Regions from separate parts of the Homo sapiens genome. Here region 1 is linked to region 2. A link means that fine-mapping ties the variant in region 2 to the plasma level of a protein whose gene starts in the linked region. Region 2 holds a variant in brackets. A gene starts in the other region. All regions are shown on their reverse strands.

Region 1 (15,466 bases), not on the chromosome of region 2:
AAAAATGCATTTGACCTATCTGGTTCTCCAAGATTACACAGAATATATGCTAAGCCAAAACCTGAAGACTAAAGTTGAACATTGTCTACTAAACAAAGAAAATCCAGTTTATTTTTTATTTTTTTTTTTATTTTGAGACAGAGTCTCACCCTGTCACCCAGGCTGGAGTGCAATGGCATGATCTCAGCTCCCTGCAACCTCTGCCTCCCGGGTTCAAATGATTCTCCTCCCTCAGCCTCCTGAGTAGCTGGGATTATAGGCATGTGCCACCATGCCCAGCTAATTTTTGTATTTTTAATAGAGATGGGGTTTCACCATGTTGGCCAGGCTGGTCTCAAACTCCTGACCTCATGATCTGCCCGCCTCGTCCTCCCAAAGTGCTGGGATTACAGGCGTGAGCCACCATGCCTGGCTGAAAAAAATATTTTAATAATTCAAGTTTTAAAAAAAAAGTAAGGGAAAGAGCATTGTACTTGTCACCTAATATAAAAGGCAAATACTTCAAAACAAACAAAAGAAAGGGTAATATGGTGTGTGTGTGTATGTGTGTGTGTTCTAAATGATCAAGTAACTAAATATAAGACTTTAAAATATGTTTAAAGCAAAAAGTTCTGTCAGCTGGTTTCTTCTCAGATTACTAAAAATCTAAGTAAAAACCCTATATAGGTAATAATGCAATACATTTTTACTAGATTGCTCAGGACTTTCAGGGGATTATTATTATCAAGATTGTTGTCCTTAACCTAGACAAAATCATGGCAGTCATCTCTCAGTGAAATGTTCTGGGCCAACCATAACACATGGGACACTCAACTATGAGCAAGATCATCTTACTTGTCCAGATTTGCCACTAACGTGTAACCTTGGGCAAATTAGTTACTTCTCTGAGCTTTTTTTTTTTATCTGTAAATGTGGATAACCATGCCTTTGAATCTAACTTTCAAAACTGTTACGAAGGATCAAATAAGGCTATGCATGTGACCATGCTTTGTAATCTACCAAAGATGACACCAATGGAAGACCTTTTATTAAATAAAGAAAAGTGAAATTAACTTTGCCATTATTTAATTCCAACACAGCTAAATTTATACATCGACATTATCCATGTAACTATGCATTCCTCTTTCCTTTTAAAATGCAGAATTATTTAAAAGATATTTATTGACTGATTTAGCAATTTGGAATTATTGGCTGTCCTAGGCATGCTTTTCATTACAAAATTCCTCATTAAAAAAAAACTCTCTTTTATTTACTCTGTATAAATCAACAAAACCAGGAAGTTAATTTTTGAAATATTGTGAAGATTGACATAATTTTTAGCTTTTATTGATTGGTTTCCAGGGTAAAGATATGAATCCTTCATTTGTTGAAATCCTAAAAACTAATTTAGTCTTAACCTTCTTTTATTCATTTCTTCAGAAAATATTTATTAAGTATCAACTCTATGTCAGGTCCTCTATCAGACACAAAGAAAAATAACATATGGTGTCTATCCTCAAGGACTTACGGTGGAGGCAAGAGACAAGTAACCAATCAGTACAATATAGTATGGTAAGTGACACGGCAGGGATATCCACAGGGAGTCAAAATTTAAGACTGGGAATTCAGGGGAAGTCCTCCAAGAAATGGTGGCACCTGACCCAAGGCATGAAAAGGTTAGGTCAGTTAAAAAGCAGACAAGAAAACAGGTTATTTATAGTAGAGAATAGAACATGGGGAACATGGGAGGGTGTTGCGAGAAAAGAGGAAACAAGATGCATTAGGAGAAGGCAAACCGTTCAGTTGATTGACATTACGGGAGATTGGAGATGGAAGAAATTTGATTAATCAGAAAATGAATCTAGAGAAGTTACCACGTACCATTTAATAAAGGACTTTAGGTGCAATGCAAAAGACTTCAGACATCTTACTAATACAAAAAAAGGGGAACTAACTCAAAAAATTTTCAGCAGAGGAAGAATACGATGAAATTGGTTTTAGAAAGACAACTGTGGTTATGACATATAGAATGTACTTAGAAGAAGGCGACTATGAGGGAGGAGAATGAAATAGGGACTTCAAACTCTGAATATGTTTCTTACACAGAAAACAATGTTGTAAAAAAATTTAAGTGGCTGGTCTCATGGCCGGTCATGGTGGCTCACGCCTGTAATCTCAGCACTTTGGGAGGCCGAGGCGGGCGGATCACAAGGTCAGGAGATCAAGACCATCCTCGCTAACACGGTGAAACCCCATCTCTACTAAAAATACAAAAAAATTAACTGGGCGTAGTGATGGGCACCTGTAGTCCCAGCTACTCGGGAGGCTGAGGCAGGAAAATAATGTGAACCCAGGAGGCGGAGCTTGCAGTGAGCTGAGATCACGCCACTGCACTCCAGCCTGGGCGACAGAGCGAGACTCCGTAAAAAAAAAAAAAAAAAAAAAAAAAAAATTAAGTGGCTGGCCTCAAAGCACGCTGCTAGTAACTGACTGAGCTAGGTTTCATGCAAAGCTCTGCATAACTCTTAACACCTATGCTCTGGAGAACCGGGCAAACCTGCCTCTCATAAAAGAAACTAAAGCAACCAGCCCTAAGCAAATTGAGTAGTAACAAGACAGTGCAGGAAAAGTGGTGACATGCTCAGGTCTACACCATCAAAATCAAGTACAGGAGTGAAAAATTATCTACTGAGTTAAGGACCATCTGGATAATCCTGGCAGAAGCAGATTTAGTGCCTGAGTCATTCAGATAATTGTGCAAACAATGTGCCCTGCTCTGGCTGAGTAACCTGGCCATTAATATCTTCCATAGTGCATTCTGCCCTGTGGCTCTTTTAAAATGGACAATAGTAGCTCAGAAAGAATTAAGGTACTATTCACTTCATGGGAGAGCTGCCTAAAGAATAATAGGATCTTAATAGACTGAGTGGATTTTATGTGTCCCCAGAGCCATTTCGCACTGGGATATACATATGATATACATAAGCCAGATTCTGCTTCAAAGGAGGAAAGAAGTTCAGCAATAGCACCGTCACATGTTGTTTTTATATTCAATTCTCCGTTAAGTGGTAGAAAGTTTTCTGAACCTGAAAGCTACAAAGAGACACTACTGCAAATAGATTTATAAACTACAGTAAAGCTATACATTTCTGTGTGTTAGAAAGCATTTTTTAAAATGCAAAGAACAAGATGCAGACAATTTTTGCAGTATACCTCAGATTTCCTATTACATGAAGAAAATATGAACACTCCAATAAAGAGTCAAATGAAATTCACAAATTAAAAAATACAAAGAACCTATAAATATAACATTTTTGAACTCATCCAAAATCATAGGAACAATAACTCAGAAGAATAACTAGATACACAATTTGTACTATCAAAATGATCCCAATTTTTAAAAATAATATCAAGTGTTAATGAGAGTATGGCCAAACTGGTACAACCACTGGTAGAGAATAAATCTGTGCTTACATTTTGGGGGAAGCAATTTGGCAGTAAGTGTTATGAGGCTAAAAATATTTACACTTTTGCCTGGGTAACTTCTAAGGTGTCATAAGGAAATGGTCAGAAATGCAAATATTAATGTATACAAAGGTTCATGTTCTTGACGATGCAAAACTGAAAACAATCTGAAGATCTATCATAGAATATTGACAGCCAAAAAACACATGGATAGTAAGAATATTAAATGAAATGAATAAATGTTTATGGTATATTAAGTTTAAAAAGCTAAATACAAAAGTGAATGTTCACTGTAAACTCAAATCTATAATTGAAAAATACCTATTTATATTAATAGAAATAAGACTAGAAGATTGAAATAGGATCTCTTTGTACTGCGGAATTTGGTGGATTTTTCTTTATTCCCAGTATTTCTTTAATGATTTTAGATGTCCTTATAATAATAAGATATTATTTTCAATTGAATATTAAATAGATAGACTTTTGAGTGTAACTTTACACAGTTGGTCATTCATATTATTGAAGTGAAATAATGCCCCATCCTCCTGCTGCTACATTTCCAAGGTCACACAACGGATCAGTCCTGTTGTCAGGAGTTGAACCTGAGTCTCCTGCTCCAAAATCAGTGCTTTTTAAGATACGAACTAAAGTACAGTGAAAGTTTCAAAGGAAAGTAGAAGCACTAATGAAAATTGAAAACACATTATACCAATAATACATGGCATCTTAGATTAAAGCAGATAGACTTATAAATTGGAAGTTTTGATAACTTGCCTACTGGACTCATCCAGGCATGGAGTGCCAGAAGAAACTAGTGCTGGAATAAGCAGAGAAAGATACAAATTAGAGTTGAAAATAAAAATGAATCAATTACTGACTATATGGTGAACACTTGGACTAGAGGAAAGAAAGTCTTAAAAAGTAACTAACCACAAGCCAGAAAGCCTGTAAAGTTGTAGTCTCCATTGATAAAAGCCAGTTTAGGAATGATGCCTATTGATGGGGAAAAAGCAAAACCAGTTTTCACCTTGTGCATTACAATTGCTACAATAGCACTTCTATTATTAATAGCTATTCTTTATGAGTAATTACCATGGGCCAAACCTTATTTTGAATGTTTAACACGCATTATCTCACTTAATATTTTACAAATCACAAAATCCTCTCACGTAAGTGCTATGATAATCCCCAGTTGACTTGCTGATGTTCGCTTAACTGCATCATGATACATAAATATTAACACCTGCAGGCTTCCTCCCAAAGCCTGTGCTCTTAGCCGATAGGGTAAGTGTAAAGGAAATGGCTAATGGGAGGGAGATTAGGAATGGAAATGCAGAAGGAGAACTTTATTTTCAATAAGATAAATTGTCATCAATTTGGGGGATTTGCTTGAAAGCTAGAAGTAGAAAGAGAAGATAAGAGGGAGACAAAGAAAGGAAAGTTAGAAAAATTAAGAAAAAAGTACGCTATCAGAGCATTGTGGTGTCAAGGAGCAAAATTTCAAGAAGATGGACAATATGGAAAATAGAAGGTCAGAAGAGAACAATCGATAATACATCAATAAAAAGAAAACAAACATTGGAATTGAGGAGGAGCTTACTGGTGAGTTAGAATAAGTTGTGGGATATGATAGAGACCATGGCCAATTTACATGTAGAAATAGATGGAAATTGGAGAATTTGTTGATTTTTTTTGAAATAAGGCAATTACAGGACATATTTTGTATACAGAAATATAAATTGTCTATTTCAGCTCTTCCTAGTTGGTCTCAAGGGACACAAGATACAAGAGAATACATAGAACCAGTACATAGTCATAATCCCTACTGTAGAACCGAGTCATTCTATGAAAAGATATAGAAACACCTTATGTCATCCATTACTCCTCATGGAGAGGATCATAAAGCCAGAGGAAGTTTCCTCCCAAGGCATAGCCTTCTACCAAAAAAATATCCCCAAATCATTGCTGCACCCATCCAGCTTCTTAGGATGATGCTTCCTGAACAAGAATCTTTAAGGCTACTTATTATAGGACTGTGTTCAATGTGGTGGGGTATACAAAAAGATTATAAGTGTAGTCTTTTTCTGCAAAGTACTTCCTAATTAGAAAACAAATCAGACATACAAATGAGGATTAAGCAACAAAATAAGACTAAGTATGATTAAGTTCCCAAGTGAAAATAGTCTACTAGAGATTCTGAAGAGGAGTGATCGTTTTGTTAGAACCATGAATTTTAAAATGCATTTAGTTGATACATACCTATGTATTGTTATTATTACCAGTAGCCCTGTTTATTAATGACCCACTATGCGCCCATCCCCATGATAGAAACATGCATGCTTTTTATGGCCCTCATAGCAACCTGAAATTTCAATGCTATAAAATTCCTTTTGAAGACAAGAAAACAGATTCTCAGAGTTTAATTATCTTGCTCCAAATCAGATCATCAGGAAGTTGCAGAGCAAAATTAAAAGCCAGCTCGCACTGCCTATGATGGTAACTTGGTAGATTAAATAATTTATCTTCAAAATGACTTGGCAAGTTAGAATTTTGTTCTTAAAACACAGAATTAAATTTTGTAGGGATACATGTCAGACTAGAACCGAATAAACTTGGTTTATATTGTTCCTGGTATCAACATTAACCACATTTTGTTGCCAGGACCAAAAATCCTGGGAAGCTAAAAAGTATTCTATTTGAGGGGAAACTGCTATGCAGTATAATTACACGGCAGGTTGTTGGAATATTAAAGTTTTCAGAAGACTTTCAACCAATCACTTGTGTCTTCTGAATCTTAGTTTCTTCATCTGTGAAAATGGAAAGGTTGTCATCAGGAATAAGTAATTTCAGGGAATGGCAAAGATAAATGCACATACATCAATCTATAAAAGAAAGTTCACATAGTACAAATAGATGTGATATGAAAAAGCAGTACAAATTTAAATATCAGGTCCACATGTAAAATCTGTACAAAGAAATACCTCACATCTACCCCCGCAAGGGTTCTAGCAGTTCCTTAGTCCTGGAAAGTGGGTGGATCCATTCCCAGATCCCCAAATGCTGTTAGCCATAAGTTACCACTGAAATAAATTTACTACCAAATAACCAAACCATTATGCCGAGTCTAATAAAATATCCCAGATACGGCATGTATTAATTTGATTTGCGTTACACTTCGGGCTGGTAAGGTTCATATGTACACTTAGAAACCGAAAAATGCGGCGAAATGGATGAAGATTATATTGGCACTCTAAGAATGTTTGCAAAATACTGAAATATTGAAAACATGAAATATGACATATTGAAAACATGAAATATGAAATATTGATCTTTACGTGAGTTACAAAAACATTATTTCACGCAGGGTTTCAGCAGTCTGAATGCTTCTTCTCCGGCTTTTCCCCCAATGGAGAATTGGATTCCCTTTTGCCCCGCCCACTCAGTGCTTCCAGATTGCTTGAGAAGGCCAAGGCAGCCGGCTCAGCAGCAGGGAAGCCGGGCTGGGTATGCAGGAGCTATATATAGCTCCACCTTGGAGATGTGCACACACAAGCACACGTACGAATACCCATGCCCGGTTTGGCATGAAAATAAATAAATAAATAAGGAAAGGTCGCAGCTATCCGCTTTCCCTCTTTCCCATCATCCCAATTTTTCAGGAATTTTCAAAGCAGGGTGTCATCAGTCCCAGAGGGTGATGCAGCGTCGGATCTCTCTGCAATTCTTCTGCCTACTGCTCCCAGCAATCTGACTCCTGCAGGAACCGGCACTGGGCCAACACCTACTACCCAGATGCGGTCACCTAGGGAGGCAGCCTCGCAGCCGCTCGGAGCCCATCCGGGCACAATCACTTGACTCCCTGGAAATCCCTGAAGCCAAATCCACCTTTCAGAAACTAGGTGTGAAGGTGGTTCCCGTAGACAGCGCCAGGCTAGGAGGGAAGGGGCCGTGGCTCCGCGGTCTCTCCCTCCCACCTGCCGCAGATCGTGGAGAAGGGCCGGTGCCTTCTCAACGGAGACGTAATTAATCGGAACGTGCCCTTCGAGTTGCAGGGATTCTTCCCCACCCCCATCTCCTGAAGGGAGCTAGATCTTAACAGAGGGGTCAGGGGACAAACAAGTCGCTTCCTCCCCTCTCCGCAACCGCTCCCAGGTTTTCCGGGATGCGCTAGCCAGGCGCCCAGGTGGGATGGGAAAGATGAGCAGGTGCGGGCCGGCGTCGGGAGAAAAAGACCTGCAGGCCCCGGGCTGCCGACCTCTCTGCTTCCCCACCCCTCCCCTGCCGAGGCGATATGGCATCCCTGGGGCGAGTTCCCGGCGCTGGCGGCGGCAGCCTCCGAAAGGAAAGTTGACGAGACACAGACCCCGAGCTCGGAGCCCTCTTCTAGGGCACTGCCGTCCTGCCTTGCCCGGCACCCCAGGGCTCCGGCATCCCGCACCCCTGCTTCCCCGCACCCCAGCCACCTCCGCCCCAGTCCTTCCCGCGCCGCACGGCGAGAGCTGCAGGGACCACAGGAGATTTGGGGGTGACGAGGGCTGGGCGGGGCTGGGGGAAGGGAAGCAACAGCATGGAAATGCGCATTCTTTATTTTATCTGCAAAGAAGGAAAAGTCCAGCTTCCTACCTGTTCCCTGCTCCTGCTCGCCTCGGTGCGGCACAGCTGGACCATACCCTACAGGTTTCCCACTTCCGCTGCAAACACCTGGGAGCGCATCTCCCCACCGGCGCCCCTCCTCGCCTCGGCGGAGCCCACCCTGGCTACTTGACAGCAGAAGCCCGGCCTTTTAGGGCGGTTATTGGGGCAGCAGGGAAAGTGGGGCGGGGACCACAGGGAAACCCGCTTCTCTGATTGGACAACAGGGATATCACTCTCACCCCCAGGACCAGCGCAGGCTGCAGACTTGGGTAGCTGCTAAACCCAACTGCAAAGGGTCTCTGCAGTGCCTGAAACCCAAACCTGCTGCTACCGGATCAAGGACCCTTGCTGGAGAGAAACTGGTTTGATGACTTGTCATTTGGGGCCCCAAGAGGGAGGGAGGGTCCAGGCATAACTAGACACCCAGCACTTTCCTGAAGCTTCCCTGAAGGGACCATCTGCTCCGGGAGATTTGTCAGGCGAAAATACCAAGCCAGCGCCTCATAGAGAAGAATGAGCTTCGATTAGGAAATAATAAGATACTTATGTGGGAAAAAATACACACACAGAAAGGAAAATAAAACGATGTGAGGTTTTTTTTTAAAGTTTCCATTTTTGTCCAGATGTAACATGGCAGTTTTTCTTGAGAAAAGACGGAATTGCTTAGTCTGTAATGCAGAAGACCCCCTAATATTCCCTGGTAGAAACAGTGTTTTAAACGGGAAAGCACTGCATAATAACCTCTCAAAAAAAAAAAAAGGGTAAAAGAAATTAAGGCCAAACTGCATGAGAGATTTGCTTTGGGGCAGTTCAGTTTGTGGCAAAAGTCTTAAAATAATCACCATTAGACTGATTGATAATTAAGTGATCTGTTACTTTTCTATTGATAGTAGTTTATCATTTCTTTAGTACTCAGACACTGAGAGGATGTTTATGCCCCCAAACCTAAGTGATCCCAAGCCTGCCTTTTATGTGAAGGGAACAGGGTAAAATAACTTTGTGTCCAGTTGCCATCTCTGCCATTTATTCAGGTGGAATCTGGAAATTTTGGAATTCAAGAGACTCCTTAAATGAAGGAACGTGCTAGAACTACCACGTGTAAAACTGGGAGTGTAGGGTGTCTTAGTATATAGTACCATGTGAGGAATCAAGTTGCCTTCTGCCTGCAAATAGCCACATTCTTCTTCTATCTGAATTAAGTAGCCATCTTAAGTGCTGAGCATAAGACACAACTCTCATTCTCACAGAGCTTCAAAGAGCTTATGACAGGCTTGGGACACTGGACAACTGTTAGAGAAGATGACATTGCTATTAATAAATATAGACTCTACTTAGTGGTTACGGTTGTTATTACTATCATCAGGTAAGGCTCTTCATAATGTTTTCTTCATAATACTGAAGGAATCCGATTAATGCATTTGAAGGTGGGGGCCGGGCGAGGTGGCTCATGCCTGTAATCCCAGCACTTTGGCAGGCGAGGCAGGCGGATCACAAGGTCAGGAGATCGAGACCATCCTGGCTAACACGGTGAAACCTCGTCTCTACTCAAAAAAAAAAAAAAAAAAAAAAATACAAAAAATACAAAAAATTAGCCGGGCATGGTGTTGGGCGCCTGCAGTCCCAGCTACTCAGAAAGCTGAGGCAGGAGAATGGCGTGAACCCAGGAGGCGGAGTTTGCAGTGAGCGGAGATTGCGCCACCGCACTCCAGCCTGGGCGACAGAGCGAGACTCCGCCTCAAAAAATAAAATAAAATAAAATAAAATAAAATAAAATAAAATAAAATAAAATAAAATAAAATAAAATAAAATAATAAAATAAAATAAAATAATGCATTTGAAGGTGGGAAGGGACCCTGGAGAAAATTTACAGTGAACAAATAGATATTATTTGTGTGGTGACAACCATCTTAACACTGAATGGAAATGACTAAATATGCCGTGGCAAAATTTCAGAACCCCTGTGTCATTTCTTACACAATACTCCTATTAGTCATGCACCTCTGTCCCAGGTACTCACACCAGTTATTCCATTGGATTGGCCAAATCATTCATGAATTACTGAGTACTTTTTCAATGCCATACCCTGTGTTAGGTGCTACAGAACTAAAGCAGAATAATGTATTGGACACATTAAAGATGATCTCAGGAAGCAATTACAATAGTAATATTTCTAAGGAATGTGTGTTTGCAACACGAACATCTTTTGATTCCTAAGCATAAATTATTTTGAGTCAAAATGAGCTTCAACATACTCTCCTCTAGAGGTAATCAGAGGAGAAGAAAAAGTATCAAAGAAAATACCTAAATATTGAAGACAACACAAGAATTGAAATTGGTAATGAAAAGAAAACTAAAGACATCTCTGCTATCTGCGTTCTTTCATTGCTTCACTCATTCATTCCTTCAACAAATATTACTATTATAAATGTGATGGTGAATAAAATAGGCAAGCTCTCATGGAACACATTCTTTATTCTTCAAGCAGACAATGTTACTTTGTGCATTTACTGTGATCTAATTAGCAGCTTTGTGTGTACATGCAAACACAACTCTGGAACAGTATTAAGATAATTTCTCTCTGGATCAGGCATCTCACACATTTTCAAGTAAAACAGAGCATTTTCAGGTTATTGCTTATTATCTCAAAGAGAAAAACCTGTACATATGTTCCCACAATACAAATGAATATGTCAAAGGTATCTGCTGCTGCAGAACATTTTAGATTTTCCAAATCACTTTCAGATACAATTTCCCTCTGTGTTCTAAAATAAGCAGGAGAGTCATCATTAGTCGCATTTCACCATGAGGAAATTGAGTAACCAAAGAGAAATGTGGTCCTTCAAAAACAAAGGCAGTAAACTATTATAGGTGGGTATATAATGCTTGGCATATTGCAGACATCTAATATGTATTTGCTGACAAATATATGGTTTTGAAAATATGAAAGTTTGAAGGATCTTAGAAAGTATTGAACTCCTTGTAATGCCAGCACTTTGGGAGGCCGAGGCAGGCAGATCATCGGAGGTTGGGAGTTCGAGACCAGCCTGACCAACATGAAGAAACCCAGTGTCTACTAAAAATACAAAATTAGCTGGGCATGCTGGCCCATGCCTGTAATCCTAGCTACTCAGGAGGCTGAGGCAGGAGAATCTCTTGAACCTGGGAGACGGAGGTGGTTGCGGTAAGCCGAGATGGCACCATTGCACTCCAGCCTGGGCAGCAATGGGAGCAAAACTCTGTCTCAAAAAAAAAAAAAAAAAGAAAAGAAAAAGAAAGAATTGTTGAATTCCACTCATTATTCTGTGAGGGAGGGACAGAATTTGCTTAAGGTCATGTGACTAGTTAGGGGAAAGCTGCAGCTAGACCCCAGGTCTTAAGACTTCATTCATTACTTTTTCTACCACATGAACAATAAGAGTTTTGGTATTTCTTTCAGCAGAGTTCCTTCTCTTTTTCCTCCCTGTATCATCCAGCCTTTTGATGTTTTCAGGACTGATCCAGCTGGTGTACTCATCTTCCAGCGTCTATAAAAATATGTGAAAGCATGCCACTTTAACTATAAATTCAGCTCAGATTCAACGTGCTTGTAAGTTTGAGGTCGGCTTCATGAGTATGGGATCAGAGTCATCAGGACTGGTGTCGAGGTATGAAGAAAGCTGTTGGAAAATGAATGGCCAGCTGGCACTTCTGTCCCTAAAATTAGGAAGAAGGGAATTATAGAAACAATAGTCTGAAGGCTTCCAATCTGGCAGTCTGGTATAGAACCTGTCTGCAGATCTTCAAAAGAAACAGTAGGACAATTTTGTCATGTGCCCTGGATGGCTCTGACTCCCTAGTCACTTACAGAGTTCCATAGTACAATTTACTGGGCATTGCTTTGCTAAACTGCCCTTGGCCTTATTGAATTCTCCTGTCTTCCCCTCCTTTTTCCACCCTGCACTGGCCCTCCTTCTTCAAACATTCCAATTTCCTCCAACTAGTGATTAAACCTCAGTGAAGGGAAAGGAAACTACAGCAACAGTGCAGCTTTCCACAGCATGTACTCCCTTTCTTTCTCCTCTGCTCCGCCCACCGTTTCCTCACTTCTCCAGGCTTCCCAGAACAATTTCTAACATACTCGATATGGCAAAAAAGCAGGAGAGTAAGGAAAACGGGCCTTTTCCAATTAATATTTTAAGCTGCAATTACCACAGCAGAAAGGTAACCAAGGTTCTGCCTGCTGGTTTAAAGAGAGTCATGCTAAACCCAGTCTGCAGCATCTCAGAGATCACGTCAGCTCACTGACCTAGCTTTTACATAGCCAACTGGGAATCCAGGCAATGGGATGGATGCACAGTGCACCAAGCTTGCATGCACACACACACACACACACACTATCAGTGCCACGTGGTGGGGAGACCAGGACGGGAAAGTTTTTGAATACTAAATACTGCATATATATTAAACGGCAGCAACTTGCTACTCATGCAGAGCCACTGTAATCTTTTTAGGGATTAAGAGTAATATTTGAATCTCTTAGCTTTAGCAGTAACTGCTATGCACCAAAAGAGCAAATTTACAGAAAAGGACACATGCTAATATTGCAAGGACATCTTCACATCTATTGTTTCACAATGGAGTCCTCTAATTTATCTTTCATGTTGCCCCATTTATATAATAGGAATCAATGTATAATGTAACAAAAGGATGTGTTACTCCTTAGTTCATAGCCACTGTGTCCTCAAATTCTTTCAACTCATACAACTCATGGGGAGTGGCCAATGCTCAATTCAGTTGTTTAAATTGTAGCTTTAGTCTCCTTATTCATGGAAAGTCAGCAGTCAGATATTATTAGTGAACTCCCACTCTCAACCTTAATTAATATGTCCTTTCCTTTCATTACCAACTCTCATTATAGACACTGAAAATCCTATTTTCTGAATAGCTCTTTGAAATAATGGATACCTTCACCCTCTGAAGTGGATGAAAGACTGGACGTTAGAAGACCTTTTATCTTAGTCTGTTTTGTGCTGCTATGACAGAATACCTGAGACTGGGTAATATATGAAGAACAGAAATTTATTTCCTACAATTCTGGAGGCTGGAAAGTCTAACATCAAAGGGCTGACATCTGGTGGGGGCCTTCTGCTGCATCATCCCATGGCAGAGGGAAAAAAGGAGGGTGAGGGAAGAAGGCTCAACTTACTCTTTTATAAATCACCCACTCCTGCCATAAGGGCACTAGTCCACACATTGAGGGCAGAGCCCTATGACCTAATCATGTCTTACAGGTCCCACCCCTCAACAGTGTTGCATTGGTATTAAATTTTCAACACATGAACTTTTAAACAACAACACCTTTGCTCAACTCTCCACTAATAACTAGCTAAGAGAATAGGGAAAGAATTGTAAACCTCAGTTTACTATGCCATAAAATGAGGAGCAAAGTTAAACAATACTCATATTCAAAACTATTTGCTAATGGTATAGTTTGAATATTTGTCCCCACCCAAATCTCATGTTGAAATGTAATCCCTCGTGTTGGAGGTGGAGACTGGTGGGAGGTGTTTGGATCATGGGAGCAGATCCCTCATGAGTGACTTGGGCCATCCCCTTAGTGATAAGTGAGCTTTCACACTGAGTTCACACAAGATCTGTTTGTTTAAAAGCATGTGGCACCTCCCCTCTACTCTCTCTCTCTTGCTCCTTCTTTTACCATGTGACATCCCTGCTCCCCCTCCGCCTTCTGCCATGATTGTAAACTGCCTGAGGCTTCTCTAGAAGCCGAGTAGCTGCCAGCTCCATGTTTCCTGTACAGTGTGCAGAACAGTGAACCAATTAAACCTCTTTTCTTTATAAATTACCCAGTTTCAAGCATTTCTTTAGAGCAATGCAAGAATGCCCTAATACAATAAAGCAGTTCTTTTATAAAAGGTCATCTACCCAAATATACATCCCACCCTCACACAATAATACAGAGGTGCAAAGGAGAAGGAACAGAGAAGAGAATTTGTCCATTTCATCCAAATATTCAAACTTATTTTGAATATTTTGAACAAAACTGTTCACAATATCCTTTATTATATTTAATGTCTATTGGATTTGTATTTATAATCTAAATTTTATTCCTGATTACTGATAAGTTGTCAGCTATTTTCTTGTCTGTTTTTCACAGTGTTCAGAAATTTTGTTCATCATTTCAAATATCAATTTGGCTTTGTTATTTTTCTCTAATGTATATTTGGTTTTAATTTTATTTATTTCAGCTCCTATCTCTATTATTTCCTTCCTCCTTTTCTACTTAGTTTGGATTTGGTATTCTTTTTCTTTTTCTTGGGATGGAAACATACATCATTGACTTTTCACCCTCTCTCTTTTTAAATATTTGCATTTAAGGCTATAATATTTTCTCTAAGTAGTGCTTTAGTATATCTGACACATTTTAATGTCTTTTTTAGCATGTTGTCCAAATGTTTTTTAATCTTTGTTTTTCTTTTGTGACTCAAAGATTATTTAAAAGTCCATTGTTTTATATATAGTCATTTAAGGTTTTTAGTTTATCTTTTTGTTTTAGAATTTTAAATTTCTTTTGTCAGAAAAATACTTTAAAAGGGTTGCAACCTATGGTGATTTGTTGAGACTTTGTTTATAAACCAAAACTTGCATTTTTTTTTTTTGTAAATGCCCCATGTGCTCTTAAAAAAAATGTACAGGCCCAGCTTTCAGTAATAGAGGAGTAACTACTGTTGACCATCTACCCTATAGATAAAAACTATAAACTCTGGGAAAAAGAGAAGAACACCTACTTGAGGGCACTGTAGAATAGTCCAAAGCAGGCAGAAACTGAAGAAGTGAATATTTGTGGGAAAAGGAAATGACAGAAAGTAGCTTCCTATTTCATCTAGTTTTTGGTCTTGAATGCAGAAACTGGCTGATTCCAAACAGGATGGCCAAGTCTCAAACAACAATAAAGGCACGATCTTTCTGTCTTGAAGAAATAGTGGACAGAACTCTAGATGACAACAGAAGAAAGAAGTAAGACAGGTGAATCTTAGAAAATAGACATCCAGAAAAAGAGAGTCCCCAGTTCAGAATATAAACTCTATCCAAATCTTAAACTGACCCTTAAACTCTGTAAACACAGGGCAAACTCCAAGCAGCCCAAATAAGGCTTTAAAAAATTGTAAATAGAAGTCTGTACCCTCTTCCCCTAATCCCTGGAATCTGTGAGTGTTACCTTATGTGACAGTCTATGTAGTGATTAAGTTAAGGCTCTCGAGATGGAGAGATTATCTTGGATTATCCAGCTGAGATCGCCCTAAATGCAACCACATGCATCCTTATAAGAAGGAGGCAATGGGAGATTTTACTACACAGAGCAGAAGGTAATGTGAAGATACCACAGAGA
Region 2 (15,466 bases):
AAGATCGCGCCACTGCACTCCAGCCTGGGCTACAGCGAGAGTCTGTCTCAAAATAATAATAATAATAATAATAAATTAAAAATTAAATTACATTTTAAAATGCTAACAGTCTTGCCTGCGCTTATAAACACTGAAACACAGAACTAAAAACTTTCAATATACAGCGAAGCATTTTGGACACAGCGCATGACAGCTCAGGTTCTGACAGTGGGCAAACAATCTGAGGGTCTTGCCCCAGAGGGCGGAGCAGGGGATATGAACACAGATGGCATTTTTATATTCTTGGTAGGACCTAAATACCATTCTCATATTAGTTTTCCTTATAAAAACTAAAACAATTTTCAATTAATTAGGAATTTTTCACGTGCGTTTCCCTTATTCTTCCAAAGCGTGAGGGTGTGTGAGACACAGCAATGGCCTATTTGGAACAATCCCTCTCTATCTCATTCTATTCCTGAAACAAGGCCTGTGGCTGTGACAGGAAAGCCTCCTTGTGCTTCCCAGCAAACTAGGCCAGCACATCCTGCTGGTCACTCCTCGACGCAGACAGGGCTGACAGACAACACAGGCTGCTGCAGCCACGATGGAGCTAACACCTGAAGTGAACTTTGGCTGAAGTGCGGTTTGGATGATCACATTTTCCTTTCTTCTAAATGCTATGAAATAATTCCAAAATCATCTTCGACTTCGTTTTATTCTAGTTTCACTCTCCTTCCGAACGAAACATAAATCATGACATCAAATTACTCAAAAGTAAAGCAGACCCCGCAGCCCCAGAGGCCATGTGTCCAATGCCATGGCAGCACCGCCTCCCTGACGCCCCAGGACCTCCTCCTCCCTGACGCCCCTGCACCTCCTCCCTGACTTCCCTGCACCTCCTCCCTGACGCCCCAGCACCTCCTCCCTGACGCCCCAGCACCTCCTCCCTGACTTCCCTGCACCTCCTCCCTGACGCCCCTGCACCTCCTCCCTGAGGCCCCTGCACCTCCTCCCTGAGGCCCCTGCACCTCCTCCCTGAGGCCCCAGCACCTCCTCCCTGACGCCCCTGCACCTCCTCCCTCACTTCCCTGCACCTCCTCCAACGCCCCTGCACCTCCTCCCTGACTTCCCTGCACCTCCTCCAACGCCCCTGCACCTCCTCCCTGAGGCCCCAGCACCTCCTCCCTGACGCCCCAGCACCTCCTCCCTGACGCCCCTGCACCTCCTCCCTGACGCCCCTGCACCTCCTCCCTGAGGCCCCTGCACCTCCTCCCTGACGTCCCAGCACCTCCTCCCTGAGGCCCCAGCACCTCCTCCCTGAGGCCCCTGCACCTCCTCCCTGACGTCCCAGCACCTCCTCCCTGAGGCCCCAGCACCTCCTCCCTGACGCCCCTGCACCTCCTCCCTGAGGCCCCTGCACCTCCTCCCTGAGGCCCCAGCACCTCCTCCCTGACGCCCCTGCACCTCCTCCCTGACGCCCCTGCACCTCCTCCCTGAGGCCCCAGCACCTCCTCCCTGAGGCCCCAGCACCTCCTCCCTGACGCCCCAGCACCTCCTCCCTGAGGCCCCAGCACCTCCTCCCTGACGTCCCAGCACCTCCTCCCTGAGGCCCCTGCACCTCCTCCCTGACGCCCCCGCACCTCCTCCCTGACGCCCCTGCACCTCCTCCCTGACGTCCCAGCACCTCCTCCCTGAGGCCCCTGCACCTCCTCCCTGACGTCCCAGCACCTCCTCCCTGAGGCTACTGCACCTCCTCCCTGACGCCCACTCCACTCTGCAGTCAGCTCTGCAGTCAGCTCAGTGTCCCACCCCTCACACCAGCTCTCAGGGATGCCCCACCATCCTCTTCAGGAGCCTGGAGCTGGAGACAGAATTGTGAGGCCTGCCTCTCACCTGCTCCTTCTGACCCTGCCTCCCTGTGGCCTCCAAACATGCCAGGTGCAGCCCTGCTGGGATGCTGCCTTCCCATCCCAGACGTTCTCAGGGAGGCCTCCCCACTCCTCTGCCTCCCTAGCTCCTGCCTTACTTTGTGGTCTGTCTCCCACTAGAAAGCCAGCTCCCAAGGGCAGGGGTTCTGCACTGCCGTTTCGTGCTACGTCCCAGAGCCTGGAACAGGCTGGTTCGACAGCACTCACGGGCCCGTTGCCCCATGTGTCCCCATCCATGGTCCTCACAGGTGCCAGCCGTGCTCTCCCTCGGCTGCAGCCACCTCCACCAGCCTGGCTCAAGCTCTAATGCAGTGAGATAGGAGAGCCCTGGCCGGCTCACGATGACTAGCTCACCGCCCTCTCAAGCAGACAGGCGCAGGAGCCCTCCCAGGCCCATCTGTCAGCTGCTGGGAAGGAGAACGGGGTGCCCCAGCTGCTGTGGGATTGGCCCAGGTGACAGCAAAGAGAGAAGGGGACGGTGTCTGGGAGAAGGCCCCAGCTTGGCGTGTCAGGTGGCTGGGCAACCACTAAGAAACATCTGGAGATGGGCTGTCCTTGGACGATCACTCTCTCACCCCTTCAGTCACTAAGCCAAGACACCGGCAACCACAGGCAGCCACAGTCCACAGCTGGCAGCCCCCAGGCTTCCCAGACAGAGCATCGGGCTCCTCCGAGGGCAGCAGGCCAGGCTAGAGGCTTCATTTTGCTTGGTGGGCATCTCCCACACCCTGACTCCTGAGCTGAGAGTGGGCACCTTCCAAGCCAAGGCCTCCCAGGAACCCCTAGAGCTGAGCTTGCCCCATTTCACGTTAGCCATGGTCCACAGGAACAAACCAACCCCTACCCTGACGACAGAATCGTGGACCCAGGTGGCTCCCTCCTGCCCATGTCATGGTACCCGGGGCCACTGCTGTTCCCAGCCTTGACCCTGCAGAGGGATCTGAGCACTTCACCTGTCCAAACCTACAAAAGACCCGTCTTAACTCTCCATGACAGGCTGTGTCCCTGACTCCCGAGGGAACACATCTCCAGCCCAAATCTCCTGCAGGCTGCCCTCAGTCACAGGCCCAGGAACACGCTCTGCCAGCCACATTGTGCAGAGCAAGTTTACCCTATGACAAGCCGAGACCAGCACAGCCAGTGACTGGCCAGGGCCCTGAGTGCTCTGAGTCTTTGTGGCACCGAGGAAATGGGTTGTAACATTTATAACAAGACCAGCAGTCACAACAAAGAATTCCTGGTTTTATTCAAAATGCGTGGAGTTACAGTCCTGTTCCCTGTGATTTCATACACGTGCCTGTCACTAGAAAATGAACCACTGCTGGCCGGGCGCGGTGGCTCACGTCTGTAATCCCAGCACTTTGGGAGGCCGAGGTGGGTGGATCACCTGAGGTCAGGAGTTCACGACCAGCCTGGCCAACATGGCAAAACCCCATCTCTAACACAAAAAATTGGCCAGGTGTGGCAGCGCGAGCCTGTGGTCTCAGCTACTCGGGAGGCTGAGGCAGGAGAATCGCTTGAACCTGGGAGACGCAAGTTGCAGTGAGCCGAGATCACACCACTGCACTCTAGCCTGGCCGACAGAGCGAGACTCCATCTCAAAAGAAAAAGGAGCCAGTGCTGAGAGGCCGTGGCTACTGACAGGCCGCCCACACTCCCCTCTAAGCTCGCATCTACTTCCCTCTGTTTTGCCAAACAGTCCCCATGAGATGCCCTGCCACACTGCACCCTGCCCCATTTTCCCTCCTCCAATCTTCCAAAATGGTTACATCGCCATCTTCAGTTACATCAATATTCAATTTAACTATTATGGCTATGTAAAATATGGCTTGTTACTGGACCAAGAAGTACAGGCTGTCTTATTCCACTTCTTGTTTTTCATGGAAGTGGTAACTGCCTCCTGGGGTCTTGTGCTTGGCCTCCATGCACCCATCTCAGCCCCAAACACTGAGGCCTCTCCGATGACAACCAGTTCTGGGGGTCCCCGGGCTCCCTCACCATCAACCTAGAAGCCTGCATCCAGTAATTCTTGACTTAAGAGTGAAGACGAAACACAGCTATACAAAACAAAAACGACACAGCTACCAGCTTCATGAGCGGCTTTTCTCCTCCCTGCGACTGAGACCAAGCTAACGTGAGTCTCCAGCTCGCACCTCCATGAACTCAGGGGACCAATGATTAGAAAAGAAGCATCCTCTCAGGCGTACCCATCACATGCATAAAAACCACCCAGCCGGCCCAGCAAGTACCAAAGCATCAGTGTCATAAAGATCGCATTCTCTATTACACACAAAATTCTGTTTGGAATTAATGGCAAGTTTTTTTTGTTTTGTTTGTTTTTGAGACAGGGTCTGTCACCAGGCTGGAGTGCATGGAGTGCAGTGGCACAAACACAGCTCACTGCAGCCTCCACCTCCTGGGATGCTCCCACCTCAACCTCCCAAGTAGCTGGGACTACAGGCATACGCCACAATGCTCAACTACTTTATTTTTTTGCACAGCCAAGGTCTCACTATGTTGCCCAGGCTGGTCTCACCCTCCTGGGATCAACTGATCCTCTCACCTCAGTCTCCCAAAGTGCTGGGATTACAGGTATGAGCCACTGTGCCTGGCCCATAATGGATTTTTCAAACTAAGAGGAAAAAATTTACACCTAGAATCTCCCCAGAGCTAACCGGTGAATCAGTTAGAGAACAAACTCATCCCGAGGGTCATGGGCACAGCTGCCATGTCCCAGGAGTAACCTGAGGAGAACCAGACTTTCCAGAAGGCCTGGAGGGAGGACCTGCAGCACGCCATGCAGCAAGCCTCAAGGCACAGTATGTGAGACGCCAAAATTCTCACAAAGCCGCTACTGAAAGCTTTGTACAGAAGGACAAACGTTAAATAAATGTATAAAGTACACACCTATCCTCTTAAGATGTTACTTAAGGGTTGCAGCTTATCAGTTAGACTGAGACACGGCCCCATCAGCCTCAACCTGCTGGTGCTCAGCCTGCAGACTCTGAGGCCTCCTGACTGTCCTCTTCCTCCCCCTTCTCCTGCCAATGCTGCCTCCTGAGGGTCTGTGGCCACCCACTCTGCCCATTGCTCTGCAGGCCCCCTTGACCCAGAGCTTGCCTGCACGCTCCTCTCAGCCTGCAGAGCCTGCAGTATCTCTCCATCCTCGTCCTGGGCCCCTCGCCCCACCTCAGGACTGCTTCCTCACCTGGGCCAGATGGTCTTTACCTGGTTGTCAGGGTGTCCTTTCTCCCCTCCACCCCTCCTCAGAGAGGGCTGCCTGCCTAGTTCCCATCTCACCCCCGGCCTGCTACGCTGACAGCAGCAGCACCTCACCCATTTGTCCTGCCGCAGCCCGCTGGCCTTGCTCTGGTGCTGGTTCACCACAGAGGCCCCGGGGCCAAGCCCAGCGCAGAGGCCGTGCTGGTCCCACAACATGTTCATGGGTGGAAGAACAGACAGTCAAATAAAGAGTAACAAATGGGGAACAGGCCGGGCGCAGTGGCTCATGTCTGTAACCCCAGCACTTTGGGAGGCCAAGGTGGGTGGATCACCTGAGGTCAGGAGTTCGAGACCAGCCTGGCCAAAACGGAGAAACCCTGTCTCTACTAAAAATACAAAATTAGCTGGGCGCAATGGCACATGCCTGTAATCCCAGGTACTCGGGAGGCTGAGGCAGGAGAATCGCTTGAACCCGAGAGGCGGAGGTTGCAGTGAGACGAAATCATGCCATTGCACTTCAGCTTGGGCAACAAGAGCAAAACTCTGTCTCAAAAAAAAAAAAAAAAAAAAAAAAACCGGGGAACAACACACAGCACGTTTCCCCAGAGCCATCTAAAGACTTGGCATCTGAGAAAACCCTTAGAGACACTGTCAGGCAATAATTCTGTGGAGGAGACAGACAAGACCTGAGGTCGAGGTCCAAGGGCATCCGTCTCCCTCACTGCACCTGCTGACTCTGAGGGCCCCAGCCAAGGTCTACTTATCCTGCACGTGCATGAAGGAGGGAAAGGACCCGCCACCGTCACCCCTACACCGCCTGGCCAAACATGAGGAAGTGAGATGGCCTGTTCAGAGCTTCAGAACTTGACGTAAGACGGACAGTGTATAGTATGGGGACTGGTGAGAGTGTGAAAAGGCACGGCCACTGTGAAGAACCGAGTTTACCCCAGCACATGACCCACTCCTAGATACAGGCCCCAAGGACTTGAAGACACGCATCCACACAAAGAGTTGTACACAAACGTGCCCATCACCAGGAGAATGAAGAAACGAAATACGGCACAAGCACGCAACGGATCGTGCTGGGAAAGGGATGGTGCTGGGGAAGACATTGTGCTGGGGAAGACATTGTGCTGAGGAAGGGATGGTGCTGGGGAAGGGATGGTGCTGGGGAAGGGATCGTGCTGGGGAAGGGACGGTGCTGGGGAAGGGATGGTGCTGGGGAAGGGACGGTGCTGGGGAAGGGATGGTGCGGTGCTGGGGAAGGGATGGTGCTGGGGAAGGGACTGGGGAAGGGACGGTGCCGGGGGACTGGGGAAGGGACGGTGCCGGGGAAGGGACGGTGCTGCGGAAGGGATGGTGCTGGGGAAGGGATGGTGCTGGGGAAGGGATCGTGCTGGGGAAGGGATCGTGCTGAGGAAAGAAGCCAAGTGAGAGCACGCGAACCCTCAAGACAGGTGAAACTGGCCAGGCACGGTGGTTCATGCCTGTAATCCCAGCACCTCAGCCTTGGGAGGCTGAGGCAGGCGGATCACCTGAGGTCAGGAGTTCAAGACCAGCCCCGCCAACATGGTGAAACCCCGTCTCTACTAAAAATACAAAAATTTTTATATGTTTTGTATTTTTAGTAGAGGTGAGCATGGTGGTGGGTGCCTATAATCCCAGCTCAGGCAGGAGAATCGCTTGAACCCGGAAGGTGGAGGTTGCAGTAAGCCGAGATCGGGCCATTGCACTCCAGCCTGGGTGACAAGAGTGAAACTCAGTCTCAAAGAAAAAAAAGAGAGATAGGCAAAACTAATCCATGGTGACAGAAATCAGCAATGGTGCCAGCAGGAGGGAAGGCACTGCCTGAGGGCGAGGGGTATGCGGCACCCACATGGGGACAGTGATGTGCGTGACAGGCTCCGCACTGCCAGGCACAGGACTCTGTCGGAGCTCACAGAGGAGCAGGTGTGAGCTGTACATTTCACTGCAGGTAAATTTTTACTCAAAGGAAGACTGGAAACAAACACTGAGCTCTAGGGAACGATGGTGGTACGGGCTGCAGTGTTCAGGGCGGTGTGCGCGGAAGCATGCTGATTACAAACACATCCCATTCAAGAGGGGCTGGGGGACAGACTGGAGATGGACAGAGACGTGGGGAGAGAGTGCGACGAAGTGCTGCCTGCAGAGCACGGGTGATGAACACCCACTTGGGTGGCCATGGAATCATTCTTTCAATATTTTGAAAATTCTCAAATTGTCATCATGAAATCTTTGAGGAAGGGGGCAGTTGCTTTCTAGCATTATGGAAAAGTAGTTAACGCAGCAAATTCTGGAAAACAGGGTATGTGAGGAGAAGGTAACAAGAAAGGAAAGAGACCACCTGGAAACCTGGGGTATGTTGGGGGCTTCAAGGAGAAGGAAAGATGTTAGAGTCAGCACGAGGAGCCTGGTGATGTGCAGGTGGCTGAGAGGGTGGCTGAGGAACGGGAGAGGAGGTGGGAGCTCATGGCGGGGATGACTGACCTCCGTTTCTGATGGCTGTGATCCCTTGGTAGAAGTCTTCAAAGCTGATCACGCCGAGCCCACTGGGATCCAAGTACTTAGTTAAGTCCTTCACCTGTAATTGCCAAATGAGACTAGGTTACCCTAAGCCTTTACAGCAGGGGTCCCCAACCCTGGACCTCGGACTGGGAGAGATCTGGTGTGTGGCCTGCTGGGAACGGGGAAGCACAGCAGGAGGTGAGGGAGCATTACCGCCTGAGCTCCCCTCCTGTCAGATCAGCAGGAGCATCAGGTTCTTCTCACAGGAGCGCAAAGCCTACTGTGTGCTCCGCATGCGAGGGGTCCAGGTTGCGCGCTCCTTATGAGACTCTAACGCCGGATGATCTGAACAGTATCATCCTGAAACCACCCCAACGCCCTGCCCGTCTGTGGAAAGGCGTCTTCTATGAAACCAATCCCTGGTGCCAAGAAGGCTGCGGGCCGCTTTAGGGAATCGGGATTAGGCTGTATCGCGAGCTTGGCTTTTTCACCACATGCAAAGAAGCCGCCAACAGGGGCGGTGCTGACAGTGACAGCCTCTGACTCCTCACGTGCAGGAGGCAGCACGGCCTCCATGGGCCACTGCAGACGGTCACAGCCACAGGACAGGCAGCACCCTGTAAATGGGCTGCCAGCAGCACCTGGCGTGATGAACCACAGGAGTAGGACCCTGGCCACTGAACGCCAGCAGCCAGGGTCTTACGTGGGGAGATCAGTTCTGAAGTTTTAGGTATTGTTCCGGCAAGGATCCAGCATGCCAACATAGATATGTTACATAGATAACATAGATAAGCACACACCGCCCATTCAGAAATGCCTTCCTGGCTCTGCAGAGTCCTTGGTAGCGAATAACTCAGGGAAAAAGACCCTTGATATCAAAAATCATAAACGCTAAGTAGGGTGACTCACACATGGACGTAACACAAAATGAAACTCTTCAGAAAGAATGCAGGTTTATTCTGCCAAGTGTAAATTGGATTTCATAAAAATTTAAAAATTTTCAGGGGATGGGGTGGGAG[G/C]GGGGAGAGTATTACAGAAAATACCTGGGCTTAATACTCAGCTGATGGGCTGACAGGTGCAGCAAATCACCATGGCACACGTTTGCCTATGTAACAAACCTGTACATCCTACACATGTACCCCAAAACTTAAAAATAAAAATTTAAAACTTTCATACTCAAAAGACATTAATAAAAGCAAAAAAATGACACTGACTGGGAGAAAGTATTTGCAAATCATATATCTGTTAAATGACTTGTGTCCAGAATATATAAGGAAATCTTATAATTAAGAAGACAACTCAGGCCAGGTGCGGTGGCTCACACCTGTAATCCCCAGCACTGTGAGAAACCGAGGTGAGTGGATCACCTGAGGCTGGGAGTTCCAGATCATCCTGACCAACGTGGAGAAACCCCATCTCTACTAAAAATACAAAATCAGCCAGGCGTGGTGGCGCATGCCTGTAATCCCAGCTACTCAGGAGGCTGAGACAGGTAAATTGCTTAAACCCGGAAGGCAGAAGTTGCCGTGAGCAGAGATTGCGCCATTGCACTCCAGCCTAGGTGATTGAATGAGACTCTGTCTCAAAAAAAAAAAAAAAAAAAAGACAACTCAATTTTTTTTTAAGTGGGCAAAAAACTTAAATAGAAATTTCATCAGAAAATATGTGTGAATGGTTGATAACCACATGAAAAAATGCTCAATTAGTCCTTAAAGAAATGCAAATTAAATTAAAACCACATTGCAGCCAGGTGCCTTGTGGCTCACGCCTGTATTCCCAGCACTTTGAGAGGCTGAGATGGGATCACCGAAGGTCAGGGGTTCCAGACCAGCCTGGCCAACATGGCAAAACCCCATCTCTACTAAAAATACAAAAATTAACCAGGTGTGGTGGCGCTCGCCTGTAATCCCAGCTACTCAGGAGGCTGAAGCTGGAGAATCGCTTGAACCCGGGAGGCGGAGGTTGCAGTGAGCCAAGATTGTGCCACTGCACTCCAGCCTGGGCTACAAAATGAGAATTTGTCTGCTAAAAAAAAAAAAAAAAAAAAAGTTTGAAGCTGGGTGTGGTGGTTCACGCCTATAATCCCAGCACTTTGGGAGGCTGAAGCAGGCGGATCACCTGAGGTCCGGAGTTCGAGACCAGCCTCACCAACGTGGAGAAACCCCATCTCTACTAAAAATACAAAATTAGCTGGGCGTGGTGGTGGGAACCTGTAACCCCAGCTACTCGGGAGGCTGAGGCGGGAGAATTGCTTGAATCCGGGAGGTGGAGGTTGTAGTGAGCTGAGATCGTGCCACTGCACTCCAGCCTGGGCAAAAACAGCGAAACTCTGTCTCAAAAAAAAAAAAAAAAAAAGTTTGAACACTGATAAATATTTGATGATATTAAGGAACTGTTCATTTTTGTAGGTGTGATGACATTTTCATAATTTTTTAAAGAGCACTGCTTTTTAGACACATGTACTGAAATACTTAGAAATACCTCTAGAATCTGGGGTGAGGCACAGATGTCACCAGAGGCATGCCTGCACGTTGCTGTGACTGGGGATGGGTACCAGTGCACCATTTCACTACTCTCCACTTTCATATGGGTTTGAACTCTTCCATAATGAAAACTTCAAGAACAGCAAAAGAGAAAAAGAGAGCAAAGAAGAAAGAAGTGTGGGCCAGGGAGAAAGGAAAAAGGAGGCAGCATTCAGCCACAGAGGGGGCAGACTCCTGAAGAAAGCCCCTCTTGGGTGGCGGGCTGGACTGTGAAAATGCTCAGGGACAGGGAGAGGCAACAGGCTGGCAGGAGCCCTGGCTGTAGCCACATCCATTAACTGACAAAACCCTAGGGCCTCAGGCAGGTTACGGCAGATGAGCATCGGTGAACCCGAGGAAGGCCCCCCAGGCCCTGTGGGCATCGGTGAACCCGAGGAAGGCCCCCCAGGCCCTGTGGGCATCGGTGAACCCGAGGAAGGCCCCCCAGGCCCTGTGGGCATCGGTGAACCCGAGGAAGGCCCCCCAGGCCCTGTGGGCATCGGTGAACCCGAGGAAGGCCCCCCAGGCCCTGTGGGCATCGGTGAACCCGAGGAAGGCCCCCTAGGCCCTGTGGTGAAGTCCAGATGCCGGGGCTGCTACCAAGCAGCAAGCACAGAACCCTCAAGGGCAGCCCTGCTGGAGATGCCAGGACACAGCTGCTCTGTTTCAGGAAAAGGATGGGGGGTGTAGCACGTGGTCAGCAAGGCTATAGCATCGCCCAGGAGGCAATCCAGAGAGCCCGAAGCACACAGGGCACCAGAGCAAGGCCCGGGCCCCCGTGGCTGGCCCTCTCGCCACTGTCAGCCAACATGCCTCATAAAGTCAGGCTCAAACAGGGCCAGCCCCAGCTAAGGGACCCCACAGTGTGGAATTCCTGAGCCAGAGACTGAGTTTCCGCTTCCCCTTCACAACGGAAGAGGCCGGGGCCATCGCCCCAATCCTAGGGCTCTGTGTGCTAGCGTGACTCTAGCCTCGGAAGTCCATCATCAACCAACTTCCTGGAGACAACTGGAGTTTATAAAACATCTCCCCACTTATCTCACAAAAGTCCTCATTCCTAAGCTCATTCCTAAGAATGTGAGAGTCTTGCTGGGTACCTGAGAGTTACCTAATCCGGAGTCCAGACTGGCCAATCTGTCCTGAAGATTCCTAAGAATTTCCACACTGAAGCTACTAATTGAACACAAAGTACCAAGTTGTTTATTCTGAAACATTAACCAAATATTTTTTAAACAAATCATTAACTAGAATAGGCCCCTTTTACATGTTACCATGTTAGAATGAACAAGAGTGAATCAAAGTATACATTTTTAAAACTCCATTTTAATTATATTTTCTTTATAATCTGTAGAACAGATGGATTTCATGTAATTGATGATTTGGGGATAGTTCTAATTCTCCAAGTCCAAAATACTCAATTCAGAGGCTTTCAAAAAAAAAAAAAAAGGTGAAACTGTGAAAAATGAGACAGCCTGCCCTTCCCTGCAAAATCCAGTAGTGGCAGAAAACCGAGCCAAGAGACATAAACCAGAGTGGCCAAAGCCAGCCAGCACCGCTCCAGCAGACGGACAATAAGTTACAGAAACACCATGGTGGAGAATCCACTCAGTCACTGGCTCCAGGGTGACTGCAGTATGAAAAACTTACTGACAAATTGCATTGTTCCTACTATGGATGTAGAAACATGATCCACTAATCTGAAAGAAAGGAAAGCAGAACAAGTTCTCCCACCACAGTCAACTAGGATCCCAGAGACTCCTCCCAGGATTCTCGAATAACACACTGTATTATGGCTTCACAGCAAAGCACCTTTCAGAACGAGAAACCGCCTTTCTGCATCTTGTTGTTACTATCATACTTGAATTATACTGTTTTCAACAAAGCTTATCTTATCAGAAACCACAGCAATAATAAGCAAAATGTTCCTAGGAGTTCCCGAAGCTATCTGTAAACTTCACACTAGATCAGCACATGGGCCAGCGTGGGCAGGGAGAGAGGCGGCTCTGGAAGCCTGGCTATACAGTATCTCCCAATGGCACTGAAGCCTGCGGCTCACCTGCCGATGGCACGGACACTTCTTTCTAAAAGCAGACGCGAAGCAGCTAAACATATACACAAAGGGCTTTCCCTGCTGTTCCCAACAAGTGCTCGTTTTGTTTTGATTTGTTGTTGTTTTTTTGTTGGTTTTTTTGTTTGTTGTTGAGATGGAGTCTCACTCCGTCGCCCAGGATGGAGTGCAGTGGTGCGGCCTCAGCTCACTACAACCTCCGCCTTCTGGTTTGGATGATTCTCCTGCCTCAGCCTCCCAAGTAGTTGCGATTACAGCTACCTTCCACCATGCCCAATCAATTTTTTAGTATTTTTAGTAGAGACAGGGTTTCACCATGTTGGGCAGGCTGGTCTTGAACTCCTGACCCCAAGTGATCTGCCCACCTCGGCCTCCCAAATTGCTGGGATTACAGGCATGAGCCACCGTGCCCAGCCTTGTTTTTCTTTTTCTTTTTCTTTTTTTTTTTTTGAGACAGGGTCTCACTCTGTCACTCAGGCTAGGGTGCAGTGGCACAATCTCAACTCACTGCAACCTCTGCCTCCCAGGTTCAAGCGATTCTCCCACCTCAGCCTCCCAAGTAGCTGTGTGTGCCGCCACACCCGGCTCATTTTTGTATTTTTGGTAGAGACAATGTTTTGCCATGTTGCCCAGGCTGGTCTCGAACTCCTGACTTCAAGTGATCCGCCCACCTTGGCCTCCCAAAGTGCTGGAATTACAGGTGTGAGCCACTCAGCCCACCTTACAGATGGGGTTTCACCATGTTGGCCAGGCTGGTCTTGAACTCCTGACCTCAGGTGATCCATCCGCCTTGGCCTCCCAAAGTGCTGGGGTTACAGGTGTGAGCGAGCCACCGTGCCCGGCCTTAATTCTTGATACTAATATCTGTTGTCCTGCACTTGAGTGGGAATCTTTCTGGTTGGTTCATTTTAACAGAGATAACTGAAGTACTCTTAGAAATGAAAGGATGTTCAATAAAATATTTGAGATGCACTTAGTATAAAGCCTGAACCAAACTAAGGCCAGGCATAATGGCTCACACCTGGCTTTCCAGCATTTTGAAATGCCAAGGCGGATGGATCACTTGAGCCCAAGAGTTCCAGACTAGCCTGGGCAACATGGTGAAACCTCATCTCTACAAAAAATTCCAAAAAATTCGTCGGTCCACGTGCCAGTAGTTCCAGCTACTTGGAAGGCTGAGGTGGGAGGATTGCCTGAGCCTGGGAGGTTGAGGCTGCAGCGAGCCATGATTGCGTCACTGCATTCCACGTGGGCGACAGAGTGAGACCCTATCTCCCAAAAAACAACAACAACAACAAAAACAGTGACAGGGAGCACCTGCTCCAGTCATATCCGATCACCCACCCAAGAATGGACTGACCACTGCTGAGTGCTTGTGAGAGTGTGCGCGGTTCTCAATTCTTTTTTTTTTTTTTTTGAGACAGAGTCGCCTCTGTTACCCAGGCTGGAGTGCAGTGGTGTGATCTCAGCTCACTGCAGCCTCCACCTCCCGGGTTCAAGCAATTCTCCTGCCTCAGCCTCCTTTGTAGATGGCATGACAGGCACGTGCCACCACGCCCGGCTGATTTTTGTAGTAGAGACGGGGTTTCGCCATGTTGGCCAGGCTGGTCTTGAACTCCTGACCTCAGGTGATCCGCCCACCTTGGCCTCCCAAAGTGCTGGGATTACCGGCGTGAGCCATGGCGCCTGGCTGCGCAGTTCTCAATTCTTTGATCTGAGTGGTGATTTTTACATATCACTGTATAGAGAACAGACAAGAAAGCTTATTCTTCAATCTGGTGCATGTGGCCAAGAAAAAAAAAAAAAAGAAAGAAAGCCTAGTTTTTTTGTTTTTTTTTTTGAGACGGAGTTTCGCTCTGTCACCCAGGCTGGAGTGCAGTAGTGCAATCTCGGCTCACTGCAACCTCCACCTCCCGGGTTCAAGCAATTCTCGTGCCTCAGCCTCCCAAGTAACTGGGATTACAGGCACGTACCACCACGCCTCGCTAACTTTTGAATTTTTAGTAGAGACGTCGTTTTGCCATGTTAGCCAAGCTGGTCTGGAACTCCTGACCTCAGGTGATCTGCCTACTGCCTCAGCCTTCCAAAGTACTGGGATTACAGGTGTGAGCCACTGCGCCCGGCCAAGAAAGCCTGTTCTTATACGCTTGAATGAGAAAGAGCCTGTATGTGACACTTTCTAAACCTGCAGGAAAGTTGGCTTCTGTTCCAAATCACATTAGCCTCAGGGACCTTGGACAAGGAGTTCCAGAGACAGGGGTGTTTTCATGGTTGGTTTTGTGGGTTTTTTTGGTTTTTGCTTTTGGGGTTTTTTGGTTTTGGTTTTGAGGAGGTATACAATATGAGATGAGGTCTACAACATGTTTCCCACGCTAGATGTGAACGACTAGACTCGGCCAATCCTCTTGCCTCAGCCTCCTGAGTAGCTGGGACTAGAGGTGAGTGTCACCAAACCCAGCTAATTTTTGTATTTTTTGTAGGGAGGCGATCTCGCTATGTTGCTCAGGCTGGTCTCAAACTCCTGGACTCCAGCAATCCTCCAACTGACCTCCAGAGTAGCTGGAACTACAGGGATGAGCCACTGTGCCTGGCTAGAGACAGTTTTTAATTCCCATTTAGTCAGCTTTGCACCAACTACTATAGCAAGCAACTTTATAGGGGGTTATGCTTGGCAGTTGATGCTTAACGACCCTGCTCAGAGTTGGCTCTAGATGAGGGGAGGCCTTTGCTTTTAACTGGGTGTGTGAGCAAGGAACAAAGACCCGCCTACTGGATGCTTCAACCACCTGGAATGATGAGGTCCTACTGGGAAAATGAAGGCATTTGAGTACATCTCATGTCTCTTTTCTTGGCAACTTAAAAGCTACGGTGTGTTTATCTCTAAATTGAAATTTGGAAGAAAGACAGGTAGGCTGAATAATATGAGTTTTCCTACTCTGAAATGTGCTCACTGGCAGCTCAGTTTTTCTGTTTGAAGTACAAAAATAGCTTCCTTGGCCGGGTGTGGTGGCTCACGTCTGTAATCCCAGAACTTTGAAAGGCCGAGGTGAGCAGATTGCCTGAGCTCTGGAGTTCGAGACCAGCCTGGCTAACATGGTGAAACCCCGCCTCTACTTAAAAAAAAATACAAAATTAGCTGGGCGTGGTGGCAGGCGCCTGTAATCCCAGCTACTGGGGAGGCTGAGGCAGAAGAATCGCTTGAACCCAGGGGGCAGAGGTTG

Which allele goes with the higher level. Positions count from the first base shown, and alleles are read on the strand shown. Strength reflects both the effect of a copy and how common the allele is.
As copies of G replace C in region 2, the plasma level of the protein whose gene starts at base 8,221 in region 1 goes up (weak association).

What was found. PIP is the posterior inclusion probability: the model's chance that the variant is causal. Protein levels are from antibody-based Olink assays in UK Biobank. Linkage for the fine-mapping came from a reference panel and not from the study's own genotypes, which makes the PIPs less certain.
Region 1: it holds the start of CNTN1, and the variant in region 2 is fine-mapped to the plasma level of the CNTN1 protein (UK Biobank, PIP 0.99).

The regions. Positions count from the first base shown.
Region 1 is chr12:40,685,194-40,700,659 of GRCh38, reverse strand. It overlaps CNTN1 (contactin 1), which reads right to left and starts at 8,221. Exons shown (of 24, transcript NM_001843.4): 1 at 8,068-8,221.
Region 2 is chr16:453,669-469,134 of GRCh38, reverse strand. RAB11FIP3 (RAB11 family interacting protein 3) reads right to left here. Exons shown (of 14, transcript NM_014700.4): 2 at 7,638-7,731. Among named protein-coding and RNA genes, the nearest start is that of RAB11FIP3, 36 kb to the right of the region's middle. RefSeq lists enhancers at 1,637-2,265, 2,266-2,895. The variant G/C (reference allele first, on the strand shown) is at 8,675.